Linked DNA regions of Homo sapiens: region 2 is reported to be linked to region 1. Evidence: microRNA targets listed by miRTarBase, many of them from high-throughput screens and not tested one by one. Region 1 holds a microRNA gene; the other region holds the end of a gene's coding sequence.
Evidence for each region. Region 1 holds the annotated microRNA hsa-miR-4787-3p (GAUGCGCCGCCCACUGCCCCGCGC, at 2,923-2,946, shown strand). A microRNA usually pairs through its seed, bases 2 to 8, with sites in the 3' UTR of a target mRNA and lowers its output. Matches are read on the target gene's strand: a 7mer-m8 pairs with bases 2 to 8, a 7mer-A1 pairs with bases 2 to 7 and ends in A, and an 8mer does both.

Region 2: miRTarBase lists FUBP1 as a target of hsa-miR-4787-3p. The part of its 3' UTR that is shown has no 7-base or 8-base seed match.

What each region holds. Positions count from the first base shown.
Region 1 is chr3:50,672,208-50,676,741 of GRCh38, forward strand. MIR4787 (microRNA 4787) reads left to right here and starts at 2,873; the gene lies at 2,873-2,956. It overlaps DOCK3 (dedicator of cytokinesis 3), which reads left to right and starts at 2,720. Exons shown (of 53, transcript NM_004947.5): 1 at 2,720-3,093. The coding sequence starts at 3,057. RefSeq lists a silencer at 2,684-2,973.
Region 2 is chr1:77,945,242-77,949,241 of GRCh38, forward strand. It overlaps FUBP1 (far upstream element binding protein 1), which reads right to left. Exons shown (of 20, transcript NM_003902.5): 19 at 3,914-4,000; 20 at 1-3,533. The coding sequence ends at 3,525. Among named protein-coding and RNA genes, the nearest start is that of FUBP1, 32 kb to the right of the region's middle.

The DNA of each region.
Region 1 (4,534 bases):
GGCACTATGTTAGTCTCTGTGTAAGGTAAAAATAATTGAAGAACAATCCTTGTCACTGAAGAAAAAAACAGATGTTTGCCAATGTGAGAAGCAGACCCATTTGATCTCTTGGAGAAGGGTGGAATGAGTAAGTGCTACAGAAAAGGTCATAATGGGTGCAAAAAATCCAGCTGAACTGAGGGCAGTTGGGGAAGCCTTCTTCAGGAAAGTGGCCCTGAGACAGCTCTTGAAGCATGATGCAGATGTGTGGGTTTCAAGAGTAGAGGACACAAGCTGAGGGACACTCTATGCAAAAACCCAGCCAGAACAAGGCAATGGTCTGAAGTTGGGATGGCCCTGGGGAATTCTGGGAAAGTAGTTTCCAGGAGGTGACAGGGTCAGAACGCAGACCTTCAGGTGGTGAGAATCAAATGAATTACATTGAAATAAAAGGATTTGGAATGGATGATTCTCCTCTGTAGTCAGATGGAGAGAGGAGGAAGAGAGAGGGAATGGGGGGATGAGGGTACCAACAGGGCAGGTCTTCCTGGGACCGCAGGAGTCTGTGGAGCAGGTCAGGGTGAAAATGGGAGACAGGGCAATGATAGTTGGGGATCCTGAGAAGTAGCAGGCAGTGAGCCTGGTGGTGGCGAGAACACAAAGAAGAGCAGTTGGAGAGGAGGGGAGGTTACTGTGCTGAGGGTCTCGATTTTCAGAGGCAAGCTGGAAGGCAGCTCATATGCTGAGAGAGTGTGTGTGTGGTGTGTTGAGTGGACTGGGAGCCTGAGGAAGGAAAGGATCAGAGCAGATGCTAGGGGGATAAGAGAGCAGGTGCATGGTCCTGCTGAAGGCCAATGTGTGCTATGCCCTTTTGCTTCAACTCACAAAAACAATCTAAATTTATACAAACAGCAAGAGTGTAGGAGTCCAGGCTTACTAAGTCCCTTCCTTCTCACTTTGGTCCCTTCTTTTCCCTTCCCTGGTTGGGTTTAATGCCCTTCCACCCTGGAGCTGAGGTGTGCAATCATGGAGAATTTTCTTCATCTGGGAAAGCCATAATCTAAGATGGATTCAGACTGGGAACAAGAGTATAAACTTTGGAAAAACTGGCCCTTAGGCTCTGTGACTGTCATCACATACAGCAGACAAGGGAGTGAACTTAGAGGATGAAATAAGAGCTTTAAGGTTGTTCCCTGAAGGCCTGCGTAGCTCAGCCCCACTTGTTGAATAGCTACCTGGAGAGTTTTGTAAGAATGTGGCTTCATTCCATAGAATACTTCCATGGTGGCCACCGGGGAGGGGTCTATCTTCTTGGAACAGTTAGCTCTTTCGTTATGTTCTTGGACACCCCTGCTACCCCTAAAAAGAAGTGTACCTGGCTATTGAGAAATTCTATCATTCACAGAACAGACATTTTTCTGGGCGGGAGTGGGCAGCTATGATTAGTGAGAGGAGGAGCCTAAAGGTCCGAAGGTGGGAAGGGGTGGCCATAACCCAGGGGAGCACAGTCAGGCCTGGGAGGAGTTACCAATCATGACACTTTGAACGAAGAATCAACAAGATCTGTTGATTGCAAGATATTCTTCTATTAGTCTGGCTTCCCATGCAACAACTATACAACAGGTGCTGGGTTGGTGGTGAGGGTTTAGAAAGTTGATTTTAGCCTGGAGCTTGCCTTCTGGGAGCTGACAGTCTTATAAGGGAAATAAGACAAACCGAACATAGCTCCAATTCCAGACAAAGAAGGAAAGGAGACTATGGGTCAGGGCAGGCTTCCTGGAGGTGAGGGGCTGAGCTGGGCTTTGAAGAGTGGTGGTGTCTGAGAGTGCTAGTGAAGGATGACACCAGGGTTTTGACTTAGTAGTGCTAGTGACAGAGATGGGCAAATCTGCTGGGATTAGAGCATGTGGTCCAAATGTAGGTGGAAAGGAGAAGTCCTGCAGTTCCTGTTCTTTGGTAAGTGGTTGACTTGGGGGTCACAAGGTGACATTTACAGGCATCAGAATGAATGGATTCTTAGGGAGGAGAGAGAGGAGGAAAGTTTCCGGTAGGAGCCAGTTCTTAGGGCTCCAAGGGAGGCAGACACCCAGGAGCAGCAGATGCCGTGTCCTGGGTAGGAACACGAAGGGCCCAATGAAGCTCTTCCTTACTAGCAAGGCGGCTGTTGATTGTTCTGGCCCCAAACATTCACCACTCAGGCCATCTCAGAGAAGCAAGAACCCAGGAGGTGTCAGCGGCCTCAGCCCACAGGGGATCCAGGAGAGAGGGGCACGAGTGCACCCCACCTGGTTCCCTCGTGGCGACTCCATCCTGCGGGCCCTGGGAATGCACAGGGTGGCTCCGGGGACCTTTCCGACAGCACTGTGGGTGACACTGGGATGGGTCTGAAAATGGTGTCGTGTCCTCCTTTTCTGGATCTCCCCTCTCCGACCAGGAGGCCTGTGGCCATCTCGGGGCGCAGGCAGGAGGCACTGGAAGCGGAAGCGAGTGGGGAGTCCGGGTAGAGGGAGTCGCCCACCTGACCGGCTTCGCCCCCTCCGGGGTTTGCTGCAGCTGAGGGCCCCGGACCAGCGATTCTAGAAGCCGGTCCGGGGCCGGGCAGTCCAATAGCTTCTCGCGGATTTCCCTCCGCTGGCGCGCAGCAGCGGCGCGTGGATTCGCGCGCGGGCTCGGGACGGCGCGAGCCCGGGCAGCGCGAGCCCCTGCGCGGCAGGGAGTGGCGCATGCGCGGGCGTCCTGCGAGCCCGCTGGGGCGAGCCGAGCCGCGGCGGCGCCGGGAGCCGGGCGGCGGAGCTGTGAAGAAGCAAGCGGCGGCACGGGAGCAGCGGCGACGGACAGGTGGCGAGCCTTCGCCCGCGCCGCCAGGGGCTGCTGGGCCACCCGCGGAGCCTCGCGGTCCAGACGTGGCGGGGGTGGCGGCGGCATCCCGGACGGCCTGTGAGGGATGCGCCGCCCACTGCCCCGCGCCGCCTGACCGTCCCCGCCTCGACTCGCGGTGCGCCACAGCCGGGCCCGCGGCCGTCCCCGCCGCGTTGTCGCCCGGTCGCCGCGCCCGCGGGGCCGCGCCCGGCACGGCCATGTGGACCCCCACGGAGGAGGAGAAATACGGCGTAGGTAGGTGAGGCTCAGGCCTGGCCGTGGCGGGGGTTCTGGGGGACGCGCCCAGCTCCCGGCCCCGCCTGGATTCGCATCCTCGTGCCCCCGCCACTGCCCGCAGGCTGCGCGGCCTCGGCGCGGGGCGAGCGCGGGGTGGGGGCAGGTGCGGGTGCGGGTGCGGGTGCGGGGGTGGGCGCGGGTCTCTGTGCAGAGAGGGCGGCAGGGGGCGCTGGCGGTGCGGCCTTGGCAGGTGCGGCCCGCGGGAGGGGTGGGCAAGGCCCGGGCAGTTGCCCGAGGTTTCTGGTGTGGGCCACGGGGCAATTTTACCCGATAAACCAAATTCTGGGAATATGTTTTCTCCCCTCCAAAAGCTCGATTTTAATGAGTTTCCGCACCTGAATTGATGAGCCCGATGGCTGTTTATTTTTGATCTGGAACCTTACAAGAAAACGGATGAAAAACGTTGACATCATTTTCCCAGTTCAAAAATTTGGACATTTGACTGCAAATGTTTGATCTGTTTTAATTTGTTTTGCCTTTAGTATTAGAAATAATACCTTACGATGGGAAATGTTTTTGGACATGTATCAATGTTTATACGGTTTTTTTTTTAAACCCTGTTTTCAGATGAGACCTTATTCCTCTTAGAAACCTTTTTTTAATGTTGTAAGTGTTAAACTCCAGAAGCTAAATAATTCTTACAATATTCAACTTCTTTAAAAAGAATATTCAGTAATTTAAAGTATTGAATGTTTTACAATGTTAGTGTTTTGTGGCAATTACATGATAGAGTTAAGCCTCATTGCATCACCTATCATCTTGTTCAGTTAGAAACAGATTTAAAATGTTGAGTGTACAGGTTTTGTTTTTCCTAAGCTCGTAATGGAAAATTTTAGATAGGAAACCTGTCTAAACATAGATTTTTGTTTCCCATCTTTACCGCAATTTAATCAAGATTTAGTTCACAATTCACTACAAAATAACTTGAAACTGCAGTGGTAACGAATGTTTTGGAATGCTATCAGGCAGGTTATCGTGTGAAAATTGAATTTATTTAAATTCGAGGACCAGCAGAGAGGTCTTCTATTCTGGTAGAAGATCTTGTTTTAAAAGGTAACTTTCTGAAACAATTAGGTATGTTAGGATGGAGGTGATAAAGGGAGCTCTGGTCCTAGAGTCTCTATTGAGAAGGAATTGAGAAATGATGCGAAGAGCTGGGATTCACCTCTAGGGACATTTTACCCCTTCTCTTAGAGTATTCCCTGAATACTGAGTTGATTCTGTGAAGTGAGGAGTTGGTGGTTTATCTTCTCCATAACTCGCTCCCAGAACTGCTGAACTAGAATAACAAATAATTGATGTGAGTGGTCAACTCTCCAGTGGCACCCCATGATTGATTTTTTTGGAGGGGGGAGGAGCCCTATTTTGGCGGGGGTGGGGGCGTGGGGGGAGGAGCCCT
Region 2 (4,000 bases), not on the chromosome of region 1:
AACTCAACAGGCTCTCAAGTTTCAATGAGCCCCTTTATATTATCAATTGTACATACCTATCATTGACTATTAAAACATAACATACACATAAATGTGGTGTAGTAACTATGTAACTTAAGAAATTTAACAGTTCATGGAACATTTAAGATCAAGTGAATAGCACTTTAAAATGAAAAGTGATCAAAAGCAGGTACATTACACCCTATACCATATTATGTATGGGAATACATTTCATATTTCTCAATTATGATTTGCCAATTTTACCTTCTACATTGAGCCCTTCTATGGTCCATGCTCATCGGCTCACCAATGGCATACACTCAAAGGATTCCTCTTTATGGGTAACTATCTCAGGACCTGATTTTATGAGCTATGATTTGGTGCTTGCAGCATCTTCAGCACTGTGTGTGAAAATGAAGGCAGTATTTTTGAATATTTTTCTTTGTTGCAGAGATAAGCAGGAGTTTTAAAAGGATCAGCACATTTTAGAAATCGAATAAACAAAACTGATAAGATGCTGCTTTCATACATTCAACTTAACTCAAAATATGTACCAGTTAAAATCATCTATAAAAACACACAAACATTTTAAACTGGCAAAAAAATTAAATGCAGCGTCAGTTATTAAAATATTATTAAATCAGAAAAATACTGATTGCTACAGATTATGAAAGGTTATTTGCTATACAGTTAACATTTCACTGATGCACATGCCTTTTATCAAAACATACTGCCTTATAACTTTTTCCTTCTTCAGCATATAACTTTTGTCTAAGAAAAAAATCATAATAAAATTCTAACCCATAATATCCTTACTGAATTATTATAGTTTAAGAATAAGAAAAAAATAAAGAAATTATAATTTTGGAGGGCAAAGAAATTTTCTGTCCATCATATAAAACAGATTGTGAAGGCTGTTGAAGTTTCTAAACAAGTGATTTCCTAAATCTTGAAAACTGTGTAATTGTCCTTTCTTAATATTAACACTTCTATATTTGGGGAAAAAATACAAAAAGATTTGGATGTAGTTCAATTACTGCAGCAATCTACTCATCATTTTCTTGTCTTAATAAAAAAAAAAAAGTAAAATAAAAAACATTACCCAGAAATGTAAACAGTTGCTTTAACAACTTACAGACTTTCCACTAAGATGGTAGCATAAAATAACAAAATACATTTTGGGGAAGCAGTAGCAGATTGCCTTTGAATACACAACCACAAAAACCTCACAGGGACAACATTAATGTATTGAAATATTTATTTATATATGTCCTTAGGTTGTGCTTACCTGGTGCTTTTTGCAGCAGAACCTAAGGTGGAAGGTCTGGGAAGGCACTGTGAAGTATAAATAATTGCACTGTTTGCAATTAATAAAGATTTTAAACCTTAAATGAATCAAAATCAACAGCCTCCAATTTGTGAATTATGATACTGAATTCAACTGAACTACTTCTTCAGTTCAATTAATAAATGCACCACTTTCCTAAAAGGTCATCTATAAAACAGTATCATGCAAAATACTGCAATTGTTCACGTCAATACCCTACTCTTAAAGATAACAAATAGCTAACTCCTTAACTATTAAACTTCATACTAGAACTATATATGCAGATCTAAATAAGGGTAAGGGAAGTCACTCTAGGTTATATAAAACAATCAAAAACATTTCAAAATATCTACAATGAACTGTACTGCTATTTCCATCCTGTAGGTAATCTCAACATTTATGTCCTTGTACCTCTTCCTTTAAAGTATATTCAAAACAACAAATGGTGCTCTCCACCAATGACAAAATATATATTTATGAAATGTGTTAAAATTGCTACATTGCTCATTATTTGCAAACTGAAATCCCCTTCTGTCTGATACATTTCAAGACTTTCATATTAAATATAGAAGATATGCATATTTTACACTGAAAAACAATATTTTAGGAGCACCAGTGAATAATACTATTCAACTTTGTTAAGTATCAGTTTTCTTTAGCTATAGCTAAAGCATATAAAAAATACTTACCCATTAAGCTCACTTTAAAAAAAATACAGAACTATGTATTATTCTATGTTAAATTAAGAGGCAGTTATGGTTTTCCAAGATATCAGCACTGTATTCCAACATAATATTCACACAACGTATGGCATTTGCATTATGTGGAACATTGACAAAAAGATACTGTTGCAGTTCATCAATTTGTCATTCTGATGTACTTACAGTGCAATGCTCCTTGAAGGAACACAATCAAGGATGATACACAGCACAGTCCTCCTCACCCCTACAGAGCTAGTTCTATACTGGCTGGATCAAACCTGCACTTCAACAGACAATGGCAAGACAGACTGTATTTGCATGTAGTCTAATATATTAATATGCAAAGAGCCAACAAATATGCAAAGAGTAAAACAATGGATTTCAACAAAATATCAGAACTTCAGCATGAGTGTTAAAGAGTAATAAAATGACTTCAAGTACATAAAAAAATTAAGTTGATTCAATGATTGGACTTGTGCATTTACAAAACAAAGCTTATCTATACTGCATAAAGAAAAAAAAAAAGCTTGAACGTTTCCATACCCCATTTATGTTTCAATGGCAGATGCAATGTAGCTATACTTTTTGCACACTATTCACTTTTCTATCCTAAATTTAGAAAGAAACACACTAACATTATATACATTGAAAGAGTTGCTTCACATGGAAAAAAACTGTTCTTATTAGACTACTCATATTCACTATCTGAAAACTGTTTAAAATTAGTTATGCCGAAACAGTCTTGGAAATCAAGTATTATCAAATTAAGAACAGAAAGGTTAACTGTTATAGCAGCAGTACAGGTCTGAAACAGTGGTCATGTATAAAAGGAAATTTCACTGTTAATGCAATGGAAGTATGCCAAAAGATCATTGTACACACATGCAGTTTTTAATCAAACAGAAGGAAAAAAAATGAAGATATCAGGATTACTTGTGCTGAAAGAGCCAATACAATAAATGGAAAAGATCCTCCAATCTACCACTATACTGCAAGGGGGGAAAAACATGCCAGTGTTTAAAAACTCAATATTTCATGGGGAAAGCTTATATATTTGTGTATATGTATCTTAATTTATCATTGCTAAGAAATTATGAATCCTTTAAATACCCACATATCCAACTTACCGACACAGGAGGTTTCATATCATTTATTGTAAAGCACAAAACAGGCATTTTAAAAGTGAAAGTATACATTGAAAAAGTACATTTATATCACAAAGCATCAACCACATAATTGCAAATACATTTGCTGGAATGTGTACATCTACACTAAATACTAAAAACAAACCAATTTTCATTTCTACACAGAAATATTAACCTCCTATCAGTAGTGATAGATATTTTGTACATTTTCAAAAAAAAAAAAAAAAAAGGAAACACTATTTTAAACCAAAAACAAAATTAAGATCTTCATCAAGTCGTCTGCATCCATATATTTAACAAAGGTTTTTTTCCCCCACACAATGAAGCAAATACTGTATTGTCCACTTCTTATTATTGGCCCTGTGCAGAAGAGATACATAAGAAATACACAAAAAGTTAAAGAAAATCCTTGAAATGGAGCTAATTCAGGAGTGAATCCTTTAAGAAAGAAAAAGTGGTTAATATAAATGGTGGTGGCTTCTTGCATGATTTGCAAATCCCTGGGGGAAGAAAATTTATTTTTAAAATCAAAGGCATTGCAGAAATATTCACCACTCAGATGCTGGAAAGCATTATAAAAAACAAAAAAACCCAAACAATACACCGTAGTACTTCATTTAAATAGTTATTATACTTTGCCAGATAAAAATTTAAAAGGCAAACACTCCCAAACAGACAAACAGTAAACATGCAGAAAACAGACTGGAGTAGAAATCAACAAATTAGCAATTACATTATACCTGAGGTGCTGGAGGATGCTGTGGCATTCCCTGGGGACTTGTCTGGGCATAATAGGCTGCTTGTTGTCTATAATACTCAGCCCAGGC